4 linked regions of the Homo sapiens genome follow. The protein of the gene in region 4 purifies or fractionates together with the protein of the main gene of each other region. This does not show direct contact. Each region holds a gene or a part of one and is shown on either strand. Other genes may lie near its edges.

Region 1 (4,924 bases), on a different chromosome or scaffold from region 4:
ATACTTCAGAAATTATAGCTTAAAACTACACTAAGACTTTTGGGACACCATATATTAGTGATTATTCAGGAAAGTTATCCCTCTATTTATATTAAAAGGAACTCAAATTCCTTTACCAATAATTACTAACTGAGGAAATCAGAGCCCTTTATTTAAATGTTCTGCAGATTGCAGGCAATGGGAGCAGGAAATGAAAGAGATCTCGGAAATGGCCCAGGTAAAGGAGATAAACCCTAGAAAAGAAACCACAATTGTATTAATTCTATCTTCATTCCATGTCTTCTCCTACTAAACACATGAAGAAGAAATGGGTTATTTTAATAACCTAAACATAGCAGGAACTAAATATGGTTTATCCTTGAGTATCGTAACAAAAAAAGGCCCACAAAATTCAAGTGAGCAGAGCACTCTCCTTTCCTTAACTAAAAAACTTACGGGAGAAATCATCTCCACTGGGCACAATGGCTCATGCCTGTAATCCCAGCACTTTGAGAGGCCAGGGCAGGAGGACTGCTTGAGCCCAGGAGTTTGAGAACAGCCAGGGCAACAAAGCAAGACCTTGTCTCCACAAAAAATAAAAAATTAGCTGGGCGTGGTGGCACACACCTGTAGTCCCAGCTACTCAGGAGGGTGAGGTGGGAGGCTCATGTGAGCCCAATAAGTTGAGGCTGCAGTAAGCTTTGACTGTGCCACTGCATTCCAGCCTGGGTGACAGAGCAAGACCCTGGTCTCAAAAAAAAAAAAGGGGGGGGGGGGAAGAAATCATCTCCTAACTTTACAGTGTCACATCCTCATTCCTAATGCCACCTGCACCTCCACTTCACACACGAGGGTGATCGATCACCCTAAACCATCTGCTCACCAGGGCTCTGCATATGGGGTCACCTTGGCCCCATGTGATCCCATGGCTGCTGTCTAGTCTGGGCGTCAGTGACCCTGCACTCCCTACATGTGACTGCTCCTCTGCAGACCCCGTCCAATCAGCTCTCCATTTCTGTCCTGGCTGCTTCTCACCCTCGGTGATCTCATGCATCACTGTGCTTCAACCCATACCTCAATTTAAAGAACTCTCTTCTCTCTCCTGGTCTCACATTTCTACTACCTGTTAAACTTCCCAAGGATCTCCTGACAGAATCTCAAGTTCAGAAGTCTAAACAGAACTGTTTCTCCATTTGACCTTGCTCTTTTTCCCTTATTCCCCACCTTGGTTAACAATATCATCATCTTCCTAGTTTTGAAACCCTGGGGATCACTGACTTCTTTCTTTTTCTAATTCCCTATGCCCAGTCAGTTTAGCACTTCACACCATGTTTTTAAGATATCTCAAAAGGGCTTCCTAGTTCACAAGGCCCTATTAATTCTAATTCCAAAAATGTCCCTAGTTTTTAGTCTTCCTTTCCAGTTCCCAAAATTGTAACTCCGGATCATGCCATTATTACTCATAACACCTGGATCACCAATACAGTCTCCCAAGGGCTCTCCCTGCACACAATTTTTCCCACTTCAGTCCACCTACTGTCAAGAACGTCTGCTTAAAACAGATCTATTCATGTTACCTATCTATTGCCCACTGTAACCTCTTTCACACAGGCTGCTTGAGGATTAAATGAGTTAATACATGCAGGACGCTTAGAACAAAACCTCATACACACTCTACCAAACATGTTCAAACTCCACTGCTGAACCTCACGTAAAGCTACCCGTGACCTACCCTTACTCTACCTTACCATCCCGTTCCACCACACTTTTTCTGTATGCCTCTTGACACTTCCTGCGTGTTCCCATTGGGTGGCTCCTTCACTAGGACTGCCTTACAACCCAAGCTTCTGCTAGTCATCTGTGAAGATTCGCTGCTGGCCACTTTCTTTCTGGAACTTTCCCAACCCTACCATGCTCCCTTTTTCACACCCTATGCAACAAATCCGCACCTCTCTTGGAGCATTTTTCACAGTGTGGTTCGTAGAATATTTCCAGGCGCCCAAATGCACAGTGGCACTGAACTCTCCACCCCCTGCAACTGCATGTGGCTGCTAGACCTACTTTGGCTAGTGTTCAAATGTCCACTCTTCCTCCCTGAGGTCCCTGGGGAGGACCTCAACCTAGGGAGATTGTATCGTAATCCCCACTCTGTCAACTCAGGTACTTAAGGCAGTGCTTAGTGTTATGCTGAAGGAATGTTTAATTAGATGATTTAATTTTGTGATGTGAAACTTGGAAGTGAATTTTTTTTTGTTCATTTAAATGTTTCAGAGATGTTAATATCCAATTAGCTTTTGTTCTGTTTCCCAACCCTTTGGTTTTTTTTGAAAACTAACAACCTAAATATTAATAATAATTTATATTTCTATGCATTGGATAGAACTCAATATTTACAGGAACTGTTTGGACAAACCTGTTAATTCAACTAGTCATTCCTCAGTTTAATAATATCAGATTTTCTTTTTTTGTGAGACAGAGTCTTGCTCTGTCGCCCAGGCTGGAGTGCAGTGGCGTGATCTCGGCTCACTGTAACCTCCGCCTCCTGGGTTCAAGCAATTATCTGCCCCAGCCTCTCGAGTAGCTGGGATTACAGAAGCCCGCCACCACAACCGGCTAATTTTTGTATTTTTAGTAGAGATGGGGTTTCACCATCTTGGTCAGGCTGGTCTTGAACTCCTGACTTCGTGATCCACCCACCTCGGCCTCCCAAAGTACTGGGATTACAGGCATGAGCCACCATGCCTGGTCGCAGATTTTCTTAAAGTTAAGGTTAAGGCATGTCTGAATTGTTATTTGCATTTTCCTTGGTCTAGTTTTCTTGTTTTTGCCTTTATATTTTTCCTTTTTTTTTTTCCTTCTGAGATGGGGTTTTGCCATGTTGCCCAGGCTAGTCTCAAACTCCTGAGCTCAAGCAACTGGCCAGCCTCAGCCTCTCAAAGTGCTGGGATTACAGACGTAAGACACCACACCCGGCCTTATACTTTTCCTTTAATTTGCTATTGTAAAAAACAGTCGTGTCTTAAAAAAAAAAAATCAGACAAGTACCTTGAAGCTTTTGGAGGAAAGCTCTTAGGATATTCCAATAAATTAACCACATTCTTTATGTTACTCATATTGTACTCCCTGTGAACTGTACACCAAGAAAGCTAAGCTTCAGATTATAATAATGACTTTCATCTTCTACTTCTAACACCAAACTTTGGCTAGTTTGTTTTTATATTTTTACCTCCATAGATCCATGTTCTCCAGTAGCAAAGGGTAAAAGGCTTTCATAGAGTTTTGTGAATGCAGCCAATCCAGTCTCTATGATCTCTGCTTCTATGCTGGGATCCAAAGGCTCAGTCTCTGTGAAATCCAGTTCCCACACTGTGTCAACCCATTCTAGGGGAAAATGCAATGAAATGTGTAAGTACTCTGTAACAAGTAAAAAAACTAGTCACCTTTAGATTCCAGGTGTGTTCAAGAGGAGAAAAGTTTACTAGTCACGATTCACATTTAACTTGTTTTAATAACATAGGTGTAGCATAATAAAAGAAAACCAGAAAAGGTTAAGAGAATCTTAAATCACAACTGACACTGACTATTAAGCTAATCATCTTCTAAAAATATAAAGGAGGAAATACTTTTCAGATACAAGAGTTTTGGGAAAGGACACTTCAAAACATTCAGTGATCAGGCTTTCCCACATGTTCAATCTAGAGAAGAAACAGAGGTTAATCAGATTGCCCACGAGGTTCCTTTGTGAAAATATCATAACCAAGTTAATAAGTGGAAATAAAATATAGAGCACTTTATTGGGCCCTTGGACAATCATGTAGCATTTAAAAAACATATATAATTTCTCCAGGAAGTTTAAAATAGAAGAGGCAACCCAGATTCAGACTCCCAGGAATACTTGGTGACTTTAAAACACACTGATTGAAAGAATGTACATTGAGAGGAGGGGTATTAAGACAGCACGCTGGCTGGATTCCACCAATCTCTCTTAACTCTAAATCTTCCCATTCTTTTCTTTTTCTTTTTTTTTTGGATAAACTTTTTTTTTTAACTTAAAGTTTTTGGGTACATGTGCACAACATGCAGGTTTGTTACATAGGTATACACGTACCATGGTGGTTTGCTGTACCCATCAACCCGTCATCTACATTAGGTATTTCTCCTAATGGTATCCCTCCCCTATCCCTCCATCCCCCCTTCCCATTCTTTTCTAATACACTATATTTCTTCAGTGTTGTCATTGTCACTTTCCCAAACTAAAATTAGGACTAGATGGAAATGTGGACATCTCAAATTATTAATCAGGTGTTCCTTCAAATTAATATTAAAAGTATTTGTTCACCACTGATTTAGAGAAGTTGGGCAAGGTATAAATAAGGAAAAAACAGAGATGGGAGCATTACACTGCACTCGGCAAATGAAAATGAAAGGCCTTACACTCAACTAGTTCCATCCTTAGAATACAATCTGGTCATCATCTTTTGTCACTTGAACTTGACCCTGAAGGAGGGGGTCTCTGTACCCTAAGTGGCTATGCACAGCATTCCTTCCAAAGACATGGAATATGCTGCCTGAAAGAAGATCTGAAAAATACAATTGTTTCTTTCCAAATTTCCAGTAATGTTTTAAAGGTCATTATAGACCACAGCAAAAGTTATCTCACTCCTTCTTTTGGTTTTGCTTATGACAGTTCCCTACTGTAAATACCATCAAATCTAATTTGGATGGCAGTAACTGGCCCTGTTATCTACCATTTGGTCACAGAAGTCTTCAGTGTTGATTGTTGAGTGAGAGTATAGGAGACACTGAGTTAGTCTTTTTCCCTCAGTATCTTTACACTATTCAAATCTCTCACTACCTATTTTCTCAGCTGTCGAATGCAGGTAACTTCTGCTCTGCTACTTCACTTAGGATGGAAGAAGAGGAAGAAATACATCACCTATTCACT
Region 2 (3,500 bases), on a different chromosome or scaffold from region 4:
GGTTCCTGCTCTCCCAGGCAGGAAGTGGGAGGGCTCTGAAGAGGGAAAAACAAGCCCATCTGGGCCAAGGCTGTTTTCCTTCCACCCTCCAGTGAAATACTTGCTTCCCTGCAGGCCCAGATGCAAATGTCTTGGCGAGAAAGTCCCTTTTGGAAAAAATTAAAACCCAACAGTAACCTTTCCCACAGTGAAACAGTTCTTGTCCCAGGAACACATGCAAATGATGGTTCTCACACAAGTTACTTCCCCGCTCAGGGCCTTAGTCTCCTCCTCTATAAAATGGGACAAGGCACATGGGGTCATTCTGAGAATGCAAAGAGATGAAGCAAACTGTGGTGAGACACGTGGCAGACGGCGTCTCCTCCCAGCATCTGCATGAACGGTTACCCAGCCAGATGCCCACTCAGCGCTCTGTGGGCACTGCCTCATCTAAGCCTCACCCCTGTGGGCAGCACAACAGTTATCCCCTCCCAGCAGACAAGAAAACCAAGGCACAGAGAGTTGTCCATGACTTGTCACATGGACCTTCTCCTCACCCGCCAACCAAGAAGTGCTCATCCTCCTCAGCTCTGCTTGGCCTCCAGACCTGGTCTTCCCAGAGGACATTTCTGACCTCAACACTCAGGCCCAAAAAACATTCTGTAGCCCGCCCTCCCTCTCCTAAGACTCATCTCCACTCCTCTCTGCGAGGCCTCCCTGCCCAGTGAAGCCCTCAGAGTCCTCCCAAAGACTCCTCTGTAAAACAGGACAAGACCCCCTGTCCAGCCCAGCTCAAGGGTCACTCTGAGAATCCAAAGAGATGAAGCAAAATGTGGTGGTCAGGCCACCACAGTCAGGCAGCCTAGCTCAGACTGGCCCTTGATGGAACCAGCTCCTCCAGCCAGCTGGTCTGACCCCTTGGGCGTGCATGTGGTCTTTTCCAGGGACTGGGCCCTTCCCACCCCTTAGTTCCTGGGCTAACATGGCACATCGCCAGAGGCAGAGATGGCTGCCAGCTCCTTCACAGGCCAACCCTCTAGCTGGGGAAGGTGACATCGTAAGTCTACAGTGTCTCTACGGTGTCTCTTCCTCACCTCCACCAGCCCAGGGGCCTAGCTTGGAGCTGAACAACTCATGCTGACCGAGGGCTGGGACCCCTCAGAGCCTAGCAGGACACTTCTCAGACGGCCTGCCTGGCCCCGCGTGCCTGTTGTGGCCTAGTGCTTCTGACAGTGTGCCATGGTAGCCCAGAAACTAAGGGGTGGGAGGGGCCCAGCCTCTGGAAAAGACCACATGCACACCCTAGGGGTCAGACCAGCTGGCTGGAGGAGTTGGTTCCATAGCCATCTGTTCTAGGCAGGCTGAGTACCCCCAGGGGCAAAGGAGCCTCCTCTGACAAGACGGATTCCAGAGGTTCTCATCTCATCTCATCTCATCTCATCTCATCTCATCTCATCTCATCTCATCTCCCCAACTACCCCTGAGCAATGCAAGGCTCCCAGGTGACTCTCCCTCCCTCCGTGGGCAGGGAGCCCTAGAGTCTCCCTCCATTCGTGGGGGGGGGGTGCCTAGAGTCTCCCTCCCTCCGTGGGTGGGGGACCCTAGAGTAGGCCCCGTGCTTTGGCACCTCTCATCTCACAGGATCCTCCCCACTGCCCTCTGGGGTACCCACAGAGGAGGCATCTCGGAGGCTCAGAGAGCTGGTCCTTTACCCAGTGTCACACAGAATAGCCAACACCTGATCTAGGTCTCTGGATGGCAAGACCACAGGGCCTGACAATGAAACCCTGCTTCTCAGTCACTCGAACCCCAAACTCTTCACACAGCCAGGCCCCTGCCACCCTCTCCACCCACAGCGCAGCCCTTCCCGGGCTTCCTCATCTGCTGTAGCCATGCTTGCGACCTGCCTCAGGGACTTTGAACTCATGGCTCTCTCTGCCTGGGATGCTCTGGACAAGTCTTTATGGCTGGCTCCTTCTCTATTTGAGCTTCAGCTGAAATGTCAGCTCCTCATAAAGGCTTTCCCTGACCACATCATCGAAAGTGGAAACGCCCATCCCTCCCCACTTGCTCCCTAATTTTCTCCTTAGCACCTATCACAAGTGATATTTATTTACTGCTCTGTCTTCCAAGGCCTGGACTAAACCTGTCTTGTTCATAGTTGCTTCCCACACCTATCACGGTATCACAGTGCCTGGCATTCAGTAGGCATCAAATAACTATTTGTTGACTTAATGAACAAACCAACCAACCAGAGAGCACGGCTGGTTAAGACTGAATGCTCCTGCCTTCCAACAAGAAGTCAATTCAAACCCATTCACATCTAAAAGTTCTCTCTGGGAAAGGTTGTTTTGTTGTTGTTTTTTTTTTTTTTTTTTTTGTCTGTTTTGTTTTCCCCCCATCAACCTCTTCTGACCAGACTTACCCAGAAAACATCTTTCCCCTGTGTGGAGCCAGTTGGTACAGAAATTTCATTATCAGTCCCTTATCAGGTTGACCGTGAGCCCCACCCCAGGGTGGCACTGTGAGTCACCTGGGAAGAAAGGCCTCCGGGCAGGAGGGCAGGTGGTTATTCCTGCTTCTCCAGGAACCAACCCAAAGGCAGCAAGGTCCAGTCCTACGACATAAAGCAATTCCTCTATTAAAGCGGGGAACGAGACCATGTACAAAGTCTAGGTTAAGAGCGAAGGACACTTCTCAGGGCCTTAGTTTGCTCATCTATAAAATGAAGGTGTTGGAAGGTTCTCCAAACCCCTGGCAGGGCTGCAGCCCTGATTCTCTGGATTTTAAAGGCTCTGTGGCCAGACTGGGGGAGGGGAGGACCTCTCTGTGCCCGAGGCCTGAGCCCAGTCTGATGCTATGAGATCATCTCTGACAGCCCGTTAGGCACGGCTGGCCACTTCTCCAATATGAAGGCTGCCCCACTTTCAGCTTCACTATTTGAGTTTCACTATTTGGAATGCTTACCTAGAGCCAGAAAATGAACTTTGCTCGACAAATCAAACACAATAAGAAAGATAATTAAAGAAATAAAATGTCTACATATATGTACAAGATGTCCAGATGGATGTTTACCAACATATAACAGTGGCTGAATCCCAGTGGTAGAATCAAAGGGGACTTTTGCTGTTTTCGTTGTACTTTCCCAAATGGCTTGAATCTTTTAAGCTATGCGCATGTATGATTTTCACAAAAATAATAAAGCTCTTCTCGAAAGTAAAAATCTCCTGGAAACTGTCTCCAGAGAAGTGCTTTCTTTTTGGCCTGGCTTCACCTAGTGCTTCACTGGGAGGCCAGGGACGTGGCCTCTTTCAGAAAGGTTATCTTCTACCCTCACCCTGAGACCAGGGAGAAACATACATGGCGCCTGGAAAGGTCATGGGGGCCCGAGGAAGAAACTGGAGTCAGGCAGCCTGGATCTGGTCTTGGCCTGTCACTGACTTGCTGTGGGCTTTCAGGCAACTCACTTCTCTTCAGGCCTCTGATTTCTTATCGGTAAATTTAAAAGGCTGCACTAGAGG
Region 3 (4,924 bases), on a different chromosome or scaffold from region 4:
ACCTTGACCTCCCAAAGTGCTGGAATTACAGATGTGAGCCACCGCTCCCAGCCTTACTTAGATCTTTTAAAATTTCTTTCAACAAGGTTTTATAGTTTCCAGTATATGTATTCTTTTTGAGATGGAGTTTTGCTCTTGTCACCCAGGCTGGAGTGCAATGGCACAATCTCAGCTCACTGCAACCTCTGCCTCCCAGGTTCAAGCGATTATCCCGCCTCAGCATCCTGAGGAGCTGGAACTACAGGCGCGTGCCACCAGGCCTGGCTAATTTTTGTATTTTTAGAAGAGATGGGGTTTCACCATGTTGGCCGGGCAGGTCTCAAACTCCTGACCTCAGGTGATCGCCTGCCTCGGCCTCCCAAAGTGTTGGGATTACAGGCATGAGCCACTGTGCCTGGCCTCCAGTATATGTGTTCTGTTTCTTTTGTTAAATTCATATCTAAGTATAATTTAAATTTATAAATTTAATTTTAAACCTTTTATACTTTGTTATTGTAAATAGAATTGTTTTTAAGTTTCATTTTTGGATTAGTCATTGCTAGTATATGGAAATACAGTTGATTTTTGTTATATTGATCTTATATCCTACAACCTTGCTGGAACTTGTTGATTAGTTCTATTTTAATAATTCTTTAGGATTTTGTATATATAAGATACTGTCATGTACAAAGTGTTTTACTTAGTCCTTTCCAATCAGGATGCCTTTTATTTAATTTATTGACTAATTCCCTGAGTGCAATGTTTAGAAGTGGTGAGAGGGGATATCCACATTATTTTCTTATTAGGATGTTAGTTGTGGGTTTTTCGTAGACCCTTTTTATTAGGTTGAGGAAGCAGCCTTCTATGTATTTGTTGAGCAGTTTTATCATGAAATGGTAACTGGATTTTTGTCAAATGCTTTTTCTGTGTCTTGCGATGATCATATGTTTTTTGTTTTGATTCTATTAATATGATGTATTACATTAATTGATTTTCAATTATTAAACCAATTTTGCATTTCAGGGATAAATCCTGTTTGGTCATGGCATATACTACCTTTTACATGTTGTTGGATTTGGTTTGCTAATATGTTGTCGAGGATTTTTTGTGTCTATATTCATGAAGGATATTGGTCTAGTTTTACAATTGCCTTTTAATTGGTGAGTGTAGGCCATCTTCAGTATTGGCTGATCTTCCACTTTATTATTTGCTTTCTGTTTATTCTGTTTTTAAAATTCTTCTGTGTTCCTGCACCTGCATTATTTTGGATTATTTGAAGACTTTTCAAAATTTAATTTTTAAGCAACTGTATATTTGACTAAATCTTTTTGTGTAGTTTTTTTTTAGTAGTTGCTCTAGGGGTATATAGATACCTAGCTTTTTATAGTCTACATAGAATCACTATTTTACCACTTCAGGTGGAATGTAGAAACCTTACCACCATATTAGAACTGTTTATATTTCCCTCTTTATGTTGTAGATGTCTTATATATTACCTCTGCACACATTAAAAACCCCATCAGAATTTCATAATTTGTTTTCAGCCATCAAATTGATTGATGGATTGATTGAAACAGAGTCTCGCTCTGTCGCCCAGGCTGGAGTGCAGTGGCATGATCTCGGCTCACTGCAACCTCCCAGGTTCAAGTGATTCTCCTGCCTCAGCCTCCCGAGTAGCTGGGATTACAGGCGCCTGCCACCATGCCCAGCTAAGTTTTTATCTTTGTAATAGAGACGGGGTTTTGCTATGTTGGTCAGGCTGGTCTCAAACTCCTGACCTCAGGTGATCTACCTGCCTCAGCCTCCCAAAGTGCTGGGATTACAGGCATGAGCCACCGCGCCCAGCCATCAAATATATTTTAAAGCAGCAGTTCCCAACCCTTTTGGCACCAGGGACCAGTTTCGTGGAAGACAATTTTTCCATGGATAGGGAAGTCAGGGGATGGTTTCAGGATGAAACTGTTCCATCTCAGATCATCAGATATTAGATTCTCATGAAGAGCATGCAACCTAGATCCCTCGCATGGTCACAACACGGTTCACATTCCTATGAGAATCTAATATGCCACTGATTTGACAGGAGGCAGAGCTTGGGTGCTAAGGCTCGCTCACCCGCTGCTCACCTCCTGCTGTGCAGCCTGGTTCCTAATAGGCCACAGACAGGTACCAATCCACGGCCTGGGGTTTGGGGACCCCTATTTTAAAGAATTCAATAGGAGAGGAACTGTCCATTATATTTGCCCAGATATTTCTGTTGCTGTTTCTTCATTCCTTAACTTTCTTTCGTCTTAAGAATTTTCTTAGCAGTTGTTTTACAGCAGGTCTGCTGGCAATTATTTCCCTTAGTTTCCCTTGATGAGAATATTTATTTGACCTCCAAGTCTGAAGGATGTTTTCAGTAGACATAGAATTTTGGGTGCCAAGACCCAGGAGATAATTCTTTTTTCTTTTAGCACTTTAAAAATGCTATTCCATTATCTTCTCACCTCCATAGTTTCTGATGAGCACTCTGTAGTCATTCACAATGTTCTCTTGTAAGTAATGTGCCATTATTCTCTGGCTACTCACAAGATTTCTTTAACTTTAGCTTTCAGCAGTTTGATTATGGTAAGTCTGGGCAATGATTTATTTGTGTTTATCCTGTTTAGAGTTTGCTGAGGTTTTTGAACCTGTAGGTTTACGTCTTTCACCAAATTTGGTAATTTTTCAGCCATTATTTTTTCAAGTATTTTTTCTGCGCTATACTTTTTTCCTCTCTTTCTGAGACTCTAATGACATAAATCTTAGATCTTTAATTATTGTCGCACAGGTCGCTGAGAATTAGATAATTTTCCAATCTCTTTTCTATGTTCAGATTGGATAATATCCATTGAATAATCTTCAAAGTTGATCGTTTTTTCTCTCATTTCCATTCTACTATTGAACCCATCCAATGAGGTTTTATCTCTGTTACTGTGTTTCTTAGCTCTGAAATCTCTATTTTATTCTCTTTATATGCTCTATTTTTGGCCGAGAGTTTATACCTTTCATTTCAAGAAAATTCACTTACTTGTTGGAACAGTTTAATAATAGCTTCTTTAAAGTCCTTGTCATATAATTCCAACATTTGTATCATCTAGGAGTTGGCTTCTGTCAACAGTCTTTTCCCGTGCAAGTTGAGATTTTTCCTTGTTCTTTGATACCAAGTAATTTTGGACTCTTTGAATATTATGCTATCAGACTCTGGGTCTTGTTTAATAAAAAATGTTTTATATTCTTGTTGCATGTGCATGTGTGTATTTGGGACAGGGACTCGTTCTGTCACTCAGGTTGGAGTGCATGGCACAATCATGGCTCACTGAAGCATCAACCTCCTGGGCTCAAGTGATCCTCTGCCCTCAGCCTCCTGAGTAACTGGGACTACAGGTACACACCACCATACCTAGCTAATTTTTGTATTTTTTGTAGAGACAGGATCTCCTTATGTTACACAGATTGGTCTTAAATTCCTGGACTCAAGTAGTCCTCCCACCTCAGCCTCCCAAAGTGCTGGGATTACAGGCATGAGCCACAGACCTAGACTATATTCTTGTTTTAGAAGGTATCAATCTGGTTGTGTCCAGGCCACAAGTTCTGATCAGCCTTCTGTGGGTTGTGGTTCCAATGTCAGTTCAGTTTCCAAAGTCTTTGCAATGCTATTCATATCTATTACACATGTGCACCAGGTAGTGGCCAGTCTAGAATTTGGGCAATGGTGATCTGTCCTATACATAGTTAAGTTCTAAAAGTCTACATATGCTAGGGAAGCCCATTTTTATTCATTTTTGGTAGAAATGTATGAGGTGCTGGATTTAATCAAATACTTTTTTTCCCAGCATTTATTGAGTTGACTGTATTGTTTCTGCCAATTCTCACTTACGTGGTTTATGTCCTTGCACGTTTGATGATTTTTGAGTGAATTCGTATTTGATTTATACTAATCTGTGGCAATCCAGAAAGCTTAACTTTGAGAAGTTTCTTTTCAGATGTTATAGCCTTCCTGAGAGACCCCTACTTAATAAAGAAATCTCAGGTTCAGGCTGGGCATGGTGACTCACGCCTGTAATCCCAGCACTTTGGGAGGCCAAGGTGGGCAGATCACGAGGTCAGGAGATTGAGACCATCATGGCTAACACAGTGAAACCCCGTCTCTACTAAAAAATACAAAAAATTAGCCAGGTGTGGTGGCGGGCGCCTGTAGTCCCAGCTACTCGGAAGACTGAGGCAGGAGAATGGCATGAACCCAGGAGGCGGAGCTTGCAGTGAGCCGAGATTACTCCACTGCACTCCAGCCTGGATGACAGAGCGAGACTCCATCTCAAAAAAAAAACAACAACCATGAAACTACCCAAATTAATCATTATTACTATTGTTCTAAAAAGCCAATGCTAACTGAAATGAATTGTCTTTGTTCACCATACTTTCTCACATTTATATTCCTTTCATTTTCTTCTTCCTGAAGTATACACTTAAGTAGTTTCTTTTTTCTTTTTTTTTAGAGATGGAGTCTCACTCTGTCACCCAGGCTGGAGTGCAGTGGCACGATCTCAGCTCACTGCAGCCTCCGCCCCCTGGGTTCAAGCTGGGACTACACGCATGTGCCACCATGCCTACCTAATTTTTTTATTTTTAGTAGAGATAGGGTTTCTCCATGTTGGCCAGGCTCGTTTCGAACTCCTGACCTCAAGTGATCCACCCGCCTCGGCCTCCCAAAGTGCTGGGATTACAGGCGTGAGCCACTGTACCCAGCCTCCTTAAGTAGTTTCTTAAATCAGTTTGAAAATGATTATTATTTCACCGTCATTTTTGAAAGACTGTTCAGTAGGCACAGAATTCCAGGTCAAAAGTTACTTTCTCTTTGAATTTAAATATTGGAGCCTGAGTACAGTGGCTCATGCCTGTAATAGCAACACTTTGGGAGGCTGAG
Region 4 (4,924 bases):
GGCCTGGGTTCGGGGGAGGTATCGGATATTTAGTTGGGTGGTCAGAGTGGGCCTCCTGGGTGGGGGATGGTTGCTGTTCCAAGTGGAGCAAAGAGCTGGTGTGAAGGCCCTGGATAGGGAGATGCTGGTGTGGTTAGGACCCAGCAGGGAGGGGCTGGTGTGAGGGATGCAGAAGGCACAAGGGAGAGAGGGGGCAAGAAGGTGCTGTGGCCAGGTTGCGGTGCTCAGAGGCTGCTGCCAGGACTTGGCTCTAGGTGAGAGGGGGCCATTGTGGGGCTCTGAATAGAGGAAGGTCATGATCCGGCATGGCTGCTGGATTGAGAATAGACTACAGGGGTCAAGGGAGGGAGCAGGGGCGAGGCGAGAGGATGGTGGCCCCAGCCAGGGTTGTAAGGAGGACATGGGGAGACGGGTTCAATGGTGTCTTTTCAAAGTGGCCTCAGCAGAACTTGATGGTGGGTTGGGAGGCGTGACATACTGGCATGTGGATGGGAAGGACGAGTAGAGGCAGGAGTTTCTGGAGCCGTGTCTGTGAGTAGAAGGGCTCCAGGGCCCAGCTCAGGCTCCTGCTTCAGGAAGAGCCTGGTGGGCCTCGAGAATATCAGCGGGAGGTGGCGTGCCCTGTGCTGGACCATGGGACGGTGGCTCCAGTCCCAGGAAGGTCTCCCCTTGCTCCTTCCATCTTCTCTGTGAAATACGAGGCCGGGTCATCAGGTGTGAAACGTGGGCACTGCCCCCCACCACCCTAGGTAGACTCCAGTGGCTGTAGGGCTGTGAGTCACAGGGGTGAGGAGGTCCAGCTGCCCTGAGGCATTGGATGGGGGTGGGGAGCTGGGGAGGCTGGAGGATGGGTGGGCACAGGCCTCAGGATGCTCTCAGGTGACAAGATTGCTGAAGGTCTTGCACTAGCACATTTATATTTTTATATTTCTTTTGTACCATGATGTTTTCTGATATCCTAGAACAGTTTTTTCTTAACCCTTGTATTTCTGGCAACTGAGGATGTTGTTAGAAAGTGCCATCTTTATCAAAGAACTGAGAGCAGGTGCTCGGTACACATTTTCTTCACATGTGTATTTATAGACAGATCTCTGGAATTGCATTATTTTGCAGCTTCAAAGAACCCCCGCTCTTGCTTGGTGTTCTGCATCCAAATACGAAGCTGCGACAGGCAGAAAGGCTGTTTGAAAATCAACTTGTTGGACCGGAGTCCATAGCACATATTGGGGGTAAGTCTAAGCTTGGGTGGGGGGGGAGCCTTCCAGGCTGTCTGTTGTCTGAGGGGGCGGGTTCTGTGGGAGCAGCTGCAGTGGCACGCTGCCCCTGGACTGGGGCCCTGCACATCCTTCTTAGCTGCGGACGTGGGACTTGGCCCTCAGACATCACATGGGAGGCCCTAGTGGCTCTTTCTGCTGGTCTCATCTGCCCAGTTTGCATGCCATTTTAGCACTGGGTGATTTTGAATTCATCTCTATGGAACACTTTGTTGTGCTCAAAGTGTTGTGAAAGGAAAAAGGCCAAATACAGATACTGATTTTTAGTTCATTTATCAAAGTTAAATAGCTATTTGACAGCACAGTATTTCTTAGTTCCATTTGCTTTGTATAGATTTCACTGTGATGAAGACAAATGGTTCTCAATATTTCCACTGTTTTTGTCTGACTGTTTGAAATCTCACCTTGATGGGTACACTTAAGGGTAACCATCTGCATCACACTTGCCCATGCCTCAGAACTAGAATTGGGTCTGGTTCTAATACTTGCATCTCTAGCAACCTTGAACAAGGCATTTTCTGTTTGTTAAAATGAGAATTAAGTTTAGTATTGGGAAGGCACAGATAGTCACAGATAGTTTAAAACTTAATCTGGTATGGGCTTGCTGAGCAGCTTCTTTGGAAGTGCCGCTTGTTATTCTGAAGCACACTGTTCTCCAGGCAGTGGGTGGCTGTGGATATGTGCACACAGGGTGCTTCTGTTGTGCTCTCAAGGCCGGTCAGTGGCCTCTCTTCTAGTGACGTTTGACCAGCTTCTCTTGCCTGGGCCCTGTTATTTGACACAGGCCCCAAGGACTGGTCCATTTCTGCAGTTGGTTTGTTTTCTTGGCTGTCAAAGTCAAAATTGTTTCAAGAAGAGTAAATATCATGATAGAACTTTGTATTTCTCTTAAAAAGACATTGGCATTTATTTGTGTAAATTTTAAAAGCTTTAGCTTTTTTTGGTGAAAAATCAAATCTTGCTCTTTAAAACTGAAACTTAACAGCAGTTGAAGTGCAAACCAATGATCTTACCTCCCAAAGAGAGCACTTTCCTGTCTTTTTCTTTTTCACTGGGTTACTTCTCATTGTACTTTGTCACCAGGTCCCAGCTTTTTCTCTTTCTTTGATGAGCTGGTGACATTTCTTGGCCAGGCACAGTGGGGTCCTCTCTGGTGGGTGTGAGCCGCAGGGACCTGCCACTGCTGTCTCTGCCACCTCATTTGGAAGCTGTCCTGGGGGCTGGCTGGCAGGTTGCTGACAGTGGAAGGAGGTACTAGCTCTGGGGAGTGCTGGGAGAGAGTAACCACCAACTATAGCAGGCTTTATTTTATTTGTTTTTAAGTAGACTTTATTTTTAAGAGCAGTTTTAGGTTCACAGCAAAATTGAGCAGAAGGTACAGAGATTTTCTGAAAAAGAGTTTTTATTACGATTGGGTGTTGCATTTCGTCAAATACTTTTTCTGCACACATGCCATGCACAGCCTCCCACATGATCAACATCCCCCACCACAAGGGTAAGTTTGTTACAAGTGATGTACTCACATCAATACGTCAATAGTACTCGGAGTCTGTAGTTTACGGTAGGGTTCACTCTTGGTTTTATACATTCTATGGGTTTGGACAAATGCCATGTATCCACTGTTATGGTATCTTACAGGGTGTTTTCACTGCCCTGAAAATCCTCTTTGCTCTGCCTGTTCATTCCACCCTTTTCTTTTAACCCATGGCAACCACTGATCTTTTTGCCATCTCCATAGTTTTGCCTTTTCCAGAATGTTATGTAGCTGGACTCATACAGTATGTAGCCTTTTCAGATTGGCATCTTTCACTTAGTAGTATGCATTTATTTAAAATTCCTCCATGTCTTTCCATGGGTTGATAGCTCATTTCTTTTTAGCACTGAGTAATATTCCATTGTATGGATGTGCCACAGTTTAGTTACCTACTGAAGTACATCTTGGTTGCTGCTAAGTTTTGGCAGTTATGAATAAGGCTGGTATAAACATCTGTGGGCAGGTTTTTGTGTGGACCTAAGTTTTCAGCTCATTTGGGTAAATACCGAAAAGCATAATTGCTGGATTGTATGGTAAGAGTTAAGTTTTGTAAGAAACCACCAAGCGTTTCCAAAGTGGCTGTACCATTTGCCTTCCCATTAACAATTAGTGAGAGTTCCTGATGCTCCATGTCCTCGCCAGCATTTGGTGGTGTCAGTGTTTTGGATTTTGGCCCTTTTAATAGGTGTATAGTGGTGTCTCGTTGTTTTAATTTGCATTTCTCTGATGATATTTGATGTGGAATATCTTCATATGCCTACCTGCCATCTGTATATCTTCTTGGTGATGTGTCTGTTCAGGCCTTTTGCCCATTTTTGTAATTGGGTTGTTCATTTTCTTATTGTTGAGTTTTAAGAGTTGTTTGTGTATTTTGGATAATAGTTCTTTATCAGACATGTTGTTTGCCAATATTTTCTCCAGTCTGTGGCTTCTCATTCTTTTGACAGTATCTTCTGTAGAGCAAGAGTTTTTAATTTTAATGAAGTTTCACTTATTAATTATTTCTTCATGTATCTCACCTTGGTTTTATATCTAAAAATTCATCATCATACCCTAGGTGTTATATCTAAAAATTCATCATCATACCTAGATTTTCTCCTATGTTCTAGGAATTTGTTTTGTATTTTATATTTAGGTCTATGATCCATTTTGAATTCCATTTTTGTGAAGGGTATAAGGTTTGTGTCTAGATTTATTTGTTTGCATGTGGATGCAAACAAATTTGTTCCAGCACCATTTGTGGAAAACACTGTCTTTTCTCCATTATGCATTGCCTTTACTCCTTTGTCAAAAGATCAGTTGATTGTATTTATGTGGGTCTGTCTCTGGGCTAAAAATTTTATCTGTTCTATTGATTTATTTTTCTATTCTTTTGCTAATACCACATTGTCTTGATTACTGTAGCTTTATAGAGAATCTTGAAGTTGAGTAGTTTCAGTCCTCTGACTTTATTCTTTTCCTTCAATATTGTATTGGATATTTTGAGTCTTCGCCCTCTCCATATGAACTTTAGGATTCATTTGTCTGTATCTACAAAATAACTTGCTGGGATTTTGATTGGGATTGCATTGAATCTATAGATTAAGGTTGGGAAAAACTGACATCTTGACAATATTGAGTATTCCTGTCCATGAACATGGAATATCTCTCCATTTATTTAGTTCTTTGATTTCTTTCATCAGAATATTCTAGTTTTCCTCATATAGACCTCGTGTATATTATATTATATTTATACCTAAGTATGCCAATCTTTTGGATGCTAATGTACATAGTATTGTGTTTTCAATTCCAAATTCCATTTGTTCATTGTTAGTATAAAGGAAGGTGAGTCAATATCTTGCAATATCCTGCAACCATGCTATAATTGCTTGGTTCCAGGAGGGTTTTTTGTTGTTGTTGATTCTTTCAGATTTTCTATCTAGACAATTATGTCACTTGCAAACAAAGAAAGTTTTATTTCTTTCTTCTCAATCTGTATACCTTTTGTTTCCTTTTCATGTCTTACTGCATTAGCTAGGTCTTCAAGTATGATACTGAAAAGGAGTGGTGATAGGGGCATCTTTGCCTTGTTCTTGATCTTAGCAGGAAAGCTTCTAGTTTGTCATCCATAAGTATG

What was found.
Region 1: the proteins of APMAP (region 4) and NCAPD3 purify together in Homo sapiens (co-immunoprecipitation; one large-scale study listed by IntAct). This does not show direct contact.
Region 2: the proteins of APMAP (region 4) and TSPAN15 purify together in Homo sapiens (co-immunoprecipitation; one large-scale study listed by IntAct). This does not show direct contact.
Region 3: the proteins of APMAP (region 4) and ATF1 purify together in Homo sapiens (co-immunoprecipitation; one large-scale study listed by IntAct). This does not show direct contact.

What each region holds. Positions count from the first base shown.
Region 1 is NC_000011.10:134,217,367-134,222,290, forward strand, and holds part of NCAPD3 (condensin-2 complex subunit D3), read right to left. Parts: intron 3,361-4,924; coding exon 3,206-3,360; intron 3,126-3,205; exon of another isoform or gene 3,025-3,125; intron 1-3,024.
Region 2 is NC_000010.11:69,457,965-69,461,464, reverse strand, and holds part of TSPAN15 (tetraspanin-15), read right to left. Parts: intron 1-3,500. UniProt on the Homo sapiens protein: Part of TspanC8 subgroup, composed of 6 members that interact with the transmembrane metalloprotease ADAM10.
Region 3 is NC_000012.12:50,797,720-50,802,643, reverse strand, and holds part of ATF1 (cyclic AMP-dependent transcription factor ATF-1), read right to left. Parts: intron 1-4,924.
Region 4 is NC_000020.11:24,975,072-24,979,995, reverse strand, and holds part of APMAP (adipocyte plasma membrane-associated protein), read left to right. Parts: intron 1-1,113; coding exon 1,114-1,229; intron 1,230-4,924. UniProt on the Homo sapiens protein: Exhibits strong arylesterase activity with beta-naphthyl acetate and phenyl acetate. May play a role in adipocyte differentiation.